Linked DNA regions of Homo sapiens: region 1 is linked to region 2. The links come from fine-mapping of genetic effects on plasma protein levels. A gene starts in region 2. The other region holds a variant in brackets. All regions are shown on one strand. Distances are from middle to middle.

Evidence for each region. PIP is the posterior inclusion probability: the model's chance that the variant is causal. Protein levels are from antibody-based Olink assays in UK Biobank. Linkage for the fine-mapping came from a reference panel and not from the study's own genotypes, which makes the PIPs less certain.
Region 1: its variant is fine-mapped to the plasma level of the CLSTN2 protein (UK Biobank, PIP above 0.99). The variant lies in the coding sequence of CLSTN2. If it changes the protein, the assay may bind it differently, which can mimic a change of level.

Annotation. Positions count from the first base shown.
Region 1 is chr3:140,445,295-140,450,667 of GRCh38, reverse strand. CLSTN2 (calsyntenin 2) reads right to left here. Exons shown (of 17, transcript NM_022131.3): 6 at 1,964-2,149. It overlaps LOC124900599 (a long non-coding RNA gene), which reads left to right. Exons shown (of 3, transcript XR_924548.3): 2 at 625-726; 3 at 892-1,181. Among named protein-coding and RNA genes, the nearest start is that of CLSTN2-AS1, 61 kb to the left of the region's middle. The variant A/T (reference allele first, on the strand shown) is at 2,020.
Region 2 is chr3:139,932,005-139,937,377 of GRCh38, reverse strand. CLSTN2 (calsyntenin 2) reads right to left here and starts at 2,193. Exons shown (of 17, transcript NM_022131.3): 1 at 1,895-2,193. The coding sequence starts at 2,003. RefSeq lists silencers at 2,046-2,105, 2,146-2,195.

The sequences.
Region 1 (5,373 bases), 510 kb before region 2:
GTGGAGAGGCCCACCTTGGGGGAAGGCAGGCTAGACTGTGCATTCACAGCCTCCTTTTCTTTTGGAGGAGATGCAGTTACCTCCAAATACAAGCCCACTGTAAGAGTAAGCCCTTTCCTAAGCTCCCAAACATGGCTGGAGAGTCCAGTGTGAGTTCCTGAGTATTTTGGGAGAGAACAAGGAAGAAATCAACTATGTGCAGGAGTAGGAGTGAAGGAGGCCCATCACCATGTCAACAGTCTGACTTACTAAGCACATGAGGCACTTCTCGCCTTATGAGATGCTCTTTTTCTCATTTCACAGACTCACTGAGAGATTTACATTCTAGCTCCCGAGGCCTGGATGGAGGCCTGGATGGATAGCCTTAGTGGATACTGAGCTAAAATGCCCATCATTTAGACAGACTTACTTTCAAATCCTGGCTCTGTTGCTTTCTATCTGTGTGACCTTAGACAGGTCATTTTCACTCTCTGGGCCTCAAATTTTTCACCTCTAAAATGGGATGGGTGACCTCCTCATGGTGAAGATGGGATAACTAAATAAAGTAATGCATGTGAAGAGGCTGGCAGGGCACACAGAGCAGGTGCTCAGTGAAGCTGGCTTTCCTCCATATCCACCTTTCAGAGCACCCCTCCATCAGCTTTGTTTCCTAACTCCTGGCCTGCCTCCTTTCTTGTGGCGCCATCTCACAGCCAAATGACAACAAGCCCTCTCTGTCCCTCACAAGTGAGTATCTTCCTTTGTCTACCGTCACCCTCACCCCAAGCTCTTCTCTGCTGTGGGCAGCCAGACTCAGCTTCATGGGCATGTGACCTTGTTACCTGGGGCAGTGACTATGTGACAGAGCTGAATTTCTACCCTGTCCTAACTTTGCTTATCTTTAACAAACAGAATGCCTGTGATAAAAAGTTCCCTTTGCAGCCAGACCAGCTGAGACTGGTACATAGAACCAAGACAGCTGACCAAAGGACTTCAAAAAGACCTCAGTCTTCATGATAATCTTATTTCCATGCTAAATGATACTCCCTCCAGCACCACGACAGTTGACAATTGCCATGACAATGACTGGAAGAAGCCGTAAAAGGACTAAAAGGGAGGCGGTACTACTGATTCCAGGAGGTTCACCACCCACTTCTGGAAAAGACATGAATATTCTTCCCTTTTCTTTTAATGTCACCTCCTTCATTAGAGAAATCCTGTATCTTAAGCCCCTCACCCTCACTTGTTGAGAAGTTGATTGTGAGCCATCTCCTGCTTCTCAATTCCACGGCCATTGAATAAAGCCTGCACTGCTTGACACTCACTTTTGGTTTTGTGTATTGGCTTTGTGATACTGAATAAGGAAAGACTCCATCTTTGGTAAGACCAGCTTTGTCAGTAACAACCTGAGTAGTCATATAGGGCCCAAGGCTTAGTTGTGTTTACTTGGTTTAATGCTTTGCTGTCTCTGTTGTAAAACTCTTGTTAATTTTTGAACAAGAGCCCCAAATTTTCATTTGCACTGGGCCCCACAAATTATATAGCTGGCGCTTTGGGGAGGAGACCAATCCCTTTCCAGGTGACTGACACTACTAACTCTTCATACTGGGTCTGGTCTGATTGCTTTTTCTAAACCAGTGGGGCAGAAAGGAACTCGTGTTTCTTTGGGCCCTGACCTAGGTACTCCTGAAAGTATCGTGCCATTTAATTCCCGTTTTACCAAAGAAGAGCAAAGGCTTTGCTTTTCCATGTCACTTGCCCAAGGCCACATAACTAATAAATGGAGTCTGAGTCAGGAGTCTACTGCCAAAAACTGGGCCTTCCAACCCTTCTGCCATAAGTAAACTTAAAATCCATCCAGGAGTTACACATATCAGTGCAGGAAGGGAGGGTTGATTCTTGCCTAAGACAATAAGATATGCTTTTTTGGTATACATCATTTAAAAGCAATTGATTTTTAAAATCCCAAAAGGGAAAAACCTACCACATAACTTTTGAAGGGATTTCTCAGAGTAGGTCTCCCGGTCACAACCCTTCCCA[A/T]TGTAATTAGTCTGCAGCTCTGTGACGATCTGGAGGGAAGACACGGCTCCATCGCACGTCTCCAGGTGGATGCTGGGGAACAGGGGCATGCTCCCGGAGCCAGGCTGGTACTCAATCCTCTTGGTCCAGTCTAAACAAACAAGGAAAGGATGAAAAGTGAATCAGGTGCAGTCAGTTCTGCTGGAACATTTCTTTTAGAAATGTGAATTTGTTCCAACGAATTATTTGCCCCAACACATATATTAGATATTAGGGAACAGTTTGAGAATAATGGCAGTTTTACATTTGCTTATGCAGGGTTTCCTCCCTGGGAAATACTAGGCAAACACAGAAAACTGCACCCAGCTGCACTGAGCCACATAGGAATACACAAAACATGTGCAGGCACGTGCATACTCACATGAGCACACACACACACACACACACACACACACACACAGTCACACCCTCAAACATATACCAGCCACTTAGTTCACCATGTGTTATGAGCCACACCCGTCCACGCCTGCAGTTACAACTTTTCATTCATTTCCCAGATACTCCTTCAAGGACTTCACAACAACACACCAGAGGCAACCCCCATCATCCCCAAACCTTTTTTTTAGTATCTCAAAATTTATGTTTTAACTTTTATTTTAGGTTTAGGTGTACATGTGCAGGTTTGTTATATAGGTAAATTTGTGTCATGGGGGCTTGTTGTACAGATTATTTCAGTACCTGGGGAGGCAACCTTCTTACATTCATTTCACAGGCAAACGTCAGATCTCCTCAAGGCAAGGTGCCATACTTATTGTAGTACTTGTGCAATATTGTGCTAATGTTTTCTCTTTCTCCTTTTTTTCTAATGTGCCACCGATGACATTTTTGAGTGTTGTGCCCCTCACCCCATTTTTTAACTTTGCCTCACGTGGTCATTTTTAGGAAGGCATGTGCCTTGTTATAAAACAAAAGGAAGCATGGTTGTTCAAGGATCTCATGAGGTCACAAGGTAGGGTGAAAGGATTCTCAGACACTCAGAACTGTGAGTTACTGAAGTAGGTCTCATGGTCTTGTCACTGCGTTTTAGTGAAAAAATAATGTGGAAATGATAAAGCATTAGAGAGGAACAAAATCACGATTAAAATGGCACCATGCAAGAACACAGCAATCAACACATACAAACTCTACAAGTGAATGTACACAGGAATTGACTGATATAATAACAGCAGCACCTGAAAAGTCAGAGCGGACTCAAGGCAGGCTCCCAGTGACTGACGACATGTGTTTGCCTCCCACAGCGGGCATCCCACGCTCTGGGAGGACACATGTCTGAGACGGCTGTGCAGCCATCCTCAGCCAGACTTATGTGCAGAAGAGTGATTCTGACTCATCAAGCAATGTGAGTTATGGGTGCTATTAGTTTACTAATCCCAAATGTTTGTCACATAGAACATTGCTAGATGATATCCCTTTGCTGAAGTAGAAATAAAAATCTATAAAGTTGCCTGACCTCACCCATGAGAAACTCAGAAAGTCCTGCATTGTGGGACTCAGTATCAGGCTGCAGTTACCAGAAGGCTACTCAGTTCCCAATGGGCCACTGGAGCCACCATGGTGATACCGGTATCTTGGAAGAGACTGGGCTTTGGGGCTAGCCAGACGGCTTTGTTCACTGAGCAACCATTTGTTCAGGGTTTGTTTCTATGTGCCAGGCTCTGCTTGGAGTACAAAGGGTACAGCAGTGAACAAGTCAGGAGCCTAGGGAGAGAGGCAGGTGATGAATAAGCCTGTGCTGCTCTAACAGAAAGGAGTAAGTGCTATGAAAGGAAAAGCCAGTGATAGAGAGGGGCTCCTTTAGCTTGAGACTTAACCTCTGAGCTGAGGCCTGAATATCAAGGACAAATGCATTGGGGGAAGCCTCAGGGAAGCATGTGTGAAGCAGATGCAGCAACAATCTTGGCTTGGCTTTGTAAGGTCAGGAAGTTCTTGAGCAGGTTATTGAAGGTCTCCAAGCCTCAGGCATCCCATCAAGGAAATGGGGACCATAGCACTGACCTAATAGTATTGAGGTAAGGATTGAGTGTGAAAATGTGTACATAGCATGCAGTAGGGACTGATCAATGTTGTTCCCTGTCAAGGAAGGAGACAATCCGCCCTCCTGCATCACAACTTTGATACATTTCAGGTACCTTTGCAATCTGAGTTTAGCTCTGAGCCCCCATGGTCACCAGCTGCCCTTTATGGAGTTTTCTGAGTGTGTCACAAGTAGAGGGTGCACATTACGGATGTGAGATTCATCCCTAGGGTACTTATAATAAGAGGATGTTTGGATGAGAGTGACTAATTGTAAAGGAGAATATCCCTACTTCTATGTTATTTTCCTCAAAGTCTTTAGGAGCTGTATCTGGATTAGCCCATCCCCTCCCAGAGGATGAGATCATGAAGTTGCTGCAGCCCATGCTCTAAAAGCCTCAAGTGCAATCTTAAGGACAAACCACTGGAGCAAAAGGTGGCTTTTTGTCTGGTGTATCTAAAGTCATAGTGCCATAGGAAGCCCTCCACACACATGGCCAGCTGTGTAGTGTCCTAGGTACAAAATGCTTTGTACCACTCCGTATTTCTGTTGTTTCTTCTACTTGGGGTTCCCTATCACTATCCCTCTTGCCACCTCCTCCATGTGTCCTTCCGGGATTTCTCCAGTCTAGGTAGATGCCCTCTCTCCTCCATGCTTCTACAGTATTTTCAACATGAGGCTGCAGCATTAGACTCTAAGCTTCATGGTGCCTCTGAGGCCTCATCGTGCTAGTCAGTGCCTGGCACAGAGTAGATGCTCACTAGTGGTAGAAACTGTGACAGAATCCTACAGGCTATCTTTTGATAGGAAATATTTGCTGGGTGGATCTGGGCAGCCGCAGACATCTAACCTTGATTGCTGCCTTGGTAGCACTTCCTGAGCTGCAGACAGAATCCATGGCTTGTTTGCAGCTTCTCTGGTACTGATCCCACCGGCCTGTATCTTCACTCCTGCTGGACCATCTATCCCTTCTCTATATAGAATCATCTATCTCTCCTCTCTCCCCAAACCCTCCATAAACTCCCTTTCTGTCCATTGAAAATGGAGAAAGCAGTTTTGTGCTGGGAGTGGGAGCTTGGTGTGCACCCTGCGGCACCAGTCTTGAGGTTCTCCTGTTTCTGCTAGTGTAGGAGAGCCCTCCCACAATACCTCCCCTCTGGTCATGGTCTCTGGAGGCCTTTTCTCTGGAGAAACCCAAGACACCCTCCTCATTGATTCCCTTTATTCAGCAGAGGCTGCAGGCATCCCTTTCTCGTCTAGATATTTTGGTGGTTATCTATGATGAGAAATTCCACCTCAAA
Region 2 (5,373 bases):
ATAAAGTGAATCATTGAAAGCCTGGGGTTTTTATTTTCCTTTTTTATCTCTCTCCTTCTCTTTCTCGCTTACCTCTATGAAGCTTCCCATTCTGACCTGAGAACTCAGCCGTGCATTATTACTACTCACACCAGATCCTCTTCCCAAATGATTTCTTCCCTGTTCTGCACTTGCTGTGTGCTTCTCACCCTCCTTCAAACTCCCGTTTGCAGACATCTGCTTATATCAATTACTGTGCTACAAAGTGATGGGAAATCTCCTCCCCCCCACCCCCCAAAAAAGTAATTTGCCTGTTTAACAAAGTGTCTATATTGGGAAAGCAGGGGGGAGATGTTTGGAAGTTCATTGTTTTTTATTCTTGTCTTCACCAAAACAACAGTCTCTCAGCTTGATCCCTTCATATCAGCCACTTCTTTACCGCACTCTGAGATATTTTCATAACGAGTTTTTCTCTCATGAAATTTCTCATTTCTAAAAATAGAAACTGCCTGTCAAAGATACACCAAGAAAAAAAATGCTGAAAAGAAACAGAATGCCTGCTTATAAAATATTTTCAAAACGATGACACCAAAAAATTTAAAAATTACAGATAAACATAATCTCCCATGTTCTTCTCAAATATATCACTCCTAAGTTATTGGAGGGCCAGTTTCTAAAGCCCAGACAAGGCGAACTGCCTGCCTCCAGCTCTCCCCAACCTCCAAGAGTAATGCAGCCTGATAGGCATTTCCTCCCCTAAGCTAGTGGTCAAGTGTAGCTCAAAGCAAGCGTCCGAATCAGGCTGTCTCTAACAGGGAATCTATTTTCTGACAGGCGCAAACCCCTCCGCCCTCTGATGATTGCCAGGCAGGATTTGGGGACCAAGTACCCCTCATTGTCACCTGGCGGATTTGGCCACAGTCCACAAACCAAACGCAAGCCCTACTTATGAACAGCGCAGAGAATCAACAAGTTATCACTAAGCTGTGCGCCCCAGCTAGGATCTGCCACAGCCTCCCCTGAGCCCACCACTGTTCCCCACCAGCTCTGCTCTTCCCTCGCCTCCCCACCCCCTGCAAGCACGTGACCTCCTGTTTCAGACCCGGCCCCCCACCCCAGAGCTCCCGACGCTCCCAGGCAGCTGTCAAAGTCCGGGGTTCGCCGGCTTCCAGGCTCGCCTGACAGAGCCAGGCGTTCGCTTGGATCTAGCTTCCTTCCGGGCGGGAGGCGCGGGGAGGTCAAGCTCTTCAAAGGAACAGGGTGGGCAGGGGAGTGGTGCCAGGTTAGGCTCCTCGGTCCTCGGTAGTCAGAGCGGAGTAGGAAAGGCAGCGGGGAGCCTCACATCCCGCGCTTCTTCCGGACCCCGCCGCCTACCCGGAGGGTACACGTTCCCCGGGGAGTCAGAGACGCCCTGGGGGAGCTTGAGGAGTGTCAGCGGGGCCTTCCCTGGAGCCTACAAGTTTCCACTCCATCCCCGAGCTGGGAGACAAGTCACAGCTCGGCTCCCTCCTTGAAAGCACCGCCGCTGATCCTTCCCCCAGGCAGGAGCAGACACCTGCTTGTCCCCACGGCGCGCCAGCGCCCTGCTCTAGCCGTCCCTGGGCCAGAGCTCGAAACTCACCCACTGCGCTCCCACCCCGGCACAGACAGCCCTCAAAGTTGTCCGTACTCCCCAGACCTCGCCTTCTGCTCAGCCCCCGGACCCCGCCCAGGGGTTGAGTTGACGTCCGCGGGTGGACCTCTCTGGTCCGCTGCGCAGGGAACTGACTTCGGGAATCCAGGGCGCACAGAGGCCAAAGAAGCTGCGGCAAGGGAGGGTGGGCAAATCCAGCTTGAGCCTAGGTCCTTGCCGCTTTCACCCTCAAGCCTGCCCTGCCTCCCTCCTGGGAGAAGAGCAAACTTCCCCAGCACCCACCTTTAGCCGCGAGGAGGCGGCGCTGCCGGCTGTCCCCGCCACCGCCGCTGCCGCTCCCCACGCCCAGCGCCAGCAGGAGCGGCACCCAGCACAGCCGCCCAGGCAGCATCCTCGCAGCAGCCGCCAACGAGCTGCAGCCGCCGCCTACTGTCCGCGCCGGCTCTCGCCTCCCGGTGCCTGCCGCACCGTGGGCCGCCTCGCCGTGCCCGATGGGTGCGCTTCTAGCGCTGCCGCCGCGGCGCTCGGCCTCGGGTTCCCGCCGCTGCGCCGCTAGCTCGCCGGCAGCAGCCGCGCTCACTGGCGCGGACCCGGAGCGGCTCAGGCGCTCACCCCGGGACGGCCCGTGACGTCACGGAGGGAGGGAGGTGGCTCGTGCATATTCATGAACGCGGGCATCGGCGCCGGGTTCCGCGCTCCCCGCCCCAAGGCCCCGACCCCCAACTTTCCTCAGCCGTCTCCACGCTCCGGGGCCCTGTCCAGGTCCCCCTGCCCAGTCGGGACCGGGCCCCCAGAGGACCCTGGTGGGCGGCTCCGGAGAGCCCTCCAGCCCCGCGCCTCCACTCCGACTCTCGGAAAAGCTGCCGCAAGGGATGGAGGGCTCCCCCAGAAAGTGGCCACCCGAGGCCTGAGGGTCATCTGGGGTGGCGCGAGGGACCCTGACCTGCCATGCCCTTTGAACTGATATCTGGGCGGAGAGGACTGACGGGCGTCGCTAAGGGTCTTGCCCTTGGCTGGGTCTCTGGGCGTTCTGCGTCGACTGGTCTGGGGAGGGCGCCAGGCGCACACTAGAGCAGCGCCTAGTGGTGCTAGGGGTTGTCGGGCAGAGTAGATAGCCTTGGACCTGGATGGCAATGGCAGGGCTCCGCGTCATCTCCGAGAAGCAGGGGCAGCCGCGGCTCTTAGAGGCTGATAGAACAGCTAGATCAGAAAACTTGGGGTGCTGGGCCTGCTGAGGCTGCAGTGGCGGGGGCGGGGTGTCAAACTTAAAATTCCCTGCGGTATGGTGCCATGCAAGAAGTTGCCACCTTTATGTTGTCACTCCGCATCTCTAAGAACAGGCTACTTGACGTCATGCATTGTAAAATCTCGTGCCGTTGAGTATTGTCAGTTCCCTGAGTGCAGGAGCCAGTGCATATCTTTGCATCCTCAACCATCTCTAGGCCGTGAAAAAATTACAAAGGTACTCAAAAAAAAAAAAAAAAAAAACAGTAAGGACTCAGAATAAATCCTTGACCATATTTACCTAAATGAAATGCCAACATCACACACAATGCAGGGTTTATGAGGAATAGTTTGGAAATAAAGTAGATATGGAAATACAGAAACAAACAATATTATTTATTTAGTCATTGATTCAAGACGTTTGCTGAGCATCTAGACAGGCTGTATCACCCTGACAGTGAGCACTGGATTAGTCGTTGGAGATCCAAAGACAGAGGAGAGAGTGGGTCCTATCCTCAAAGCTTTTGTTCCCTGCTTGGGGAGCCAGAGAGGGCAGCAAAGGCAATTACAATCCCTTGTAAGTGTTATGGTCCTGCACATTCTTTATGTTGCTAGCTATGAGCCTATACAAATCAATTAACAAAATGTATATATTGCAAGAGTGCCTAAACAGCATCCTCTAATTAATAACTGTAGTTTGAGGTACTCAACAAAGCCATAAAATCCATTAACAGCACTCCTGCAGCTCAGCCTCCCTCTGCTGCCCTGGCAGCTCACTCAGAGCCTCTGCAGTGGTGAAAGCCAACTCTTCAGGATTTCAGGCACCAGGATGTGCTTGGGGACAGCAGTGAATCATGGTGGCTGCATGGGGCTCAGACCCATGTGGGGCTCTTTACCTTCAGGTCTCCTTTAGCCCACAAATCAACATGTGCGCTATTATTCTCATTTCACACATGATGAAATAGAGGCTCAGGGAAGTTAGGTAACTTCCTTGTTCAGGGTCAAAAATCTAGTAAATGTCCCAGGCCGACACCAGGACCTTGCCTTTGTCAGATGTTGGTTTCAGAATCTAGAAAAGATGGCATGGAAAGGTGGTAGCTGACCCAGGGAAAATAAAAAAGCCAGAAAATAGAAGAGAAATGTAAATTTGTCTCATTTTCTTCCATTTATGCTCCACCCAACTACATATCTGCCCTCCTCCCTTCATTTTCTCTAATAAGTAGACCTATCTTACTGACTTACCTGCACTGTTCTTTGATGTCATTATACTGGGCTTTGTTAAGATCACTGATTGGTCCTAATAATTTTATGTGAAGTTTCAAATTCAGACCAAATAATGAGAAACAGGGGGAAATGTAGCTTATTAGGAAGCATCTCCATGGAGAGATAGCCAGGAAAGAACACAGCAAAGAAAAACACTAGGGGGTGGGCCAGTTACCAACAGGCACAAAATTGCTAGCCTCCATCTCCTCCTCTACCAATGAGGGTAATAACAATGCCTATTGTGGTAGATCAAGTGCACTAATGGCCATTTGTCCATGCTTCTCTGAATCTGTTTCCTTTGGATGTGCCCTCCCACCCCAACTCTGAGCTAGGCCATATGATTTGCTTTGGTCAGTGGGACAGTGGCATGCATGTTGCTTCTTCCTGCCTTGAATCCCTGCTGCTGACATGAGAACAAGCCTAAGCTAACCTGCAGAAGGGTAGGAGACTGCATGGAGTAGAACTGAGCTGTTTCAGACAGCCAAGGTCACACTAGGCTGGTCAGAACCAACTGGCCTACAGGCTGGCTAACCACAGACACATGAGCAAGCCCAGGTAAGCTCAACCAAGATCAGCCAAGCCTGGCTCACATCAGAACTATCCAGCTGACTTATGAGATACAATAAGTGGTTTTTGCATTAATTCATTATGTTCTGGAGCAATTGATTGAGCAGCATTATGCCTACTTCATAAGATCATTACAAGAAGTAAATTTTAAAAATATGTTAAACAGTATGTTGCACATAGTCAATGTTCAATAAATGTAAAAATGTCTTCCCCTTATCCTACTTCCTATATCTCTGAAAACAAGTGTGCCAGTCACACATTTGATTTGATTCATTTGGGGAACAGGCAACAATGACCTGCCTTAGAGGAGATAAAAGTAAGTAAGTTCAGCCTTAGAAATACTCAGACATAAGAGCTTTTAAGTCCACATCATTTGTATGGAGCACTACTGTGCTGTCTGCTTCTGCTGGGCCATTGCAGATGCAAAAGATGGGGTAAAGCAACCTAACAGTTAATGAGTCCTCATTCTTTCCATGCCAGGCTTTACAATGGAGGATATACATTCCACACCTACACCTTCTTTAATCTTTGCAACAAGTGTGCTGTGGTTTGAATATGTGTCCCCTCCAAAACTCATGTTGAAGCTTAATCCTCAATGTGGCAGTATTGAGAGGTGAGACATTTGGCAGGGGGCTGGTTCATGATGGCTCTGCTCTCATGAATAGATTAATCTGTGCATAGATTAATATATTAATGTGTCAATAGAT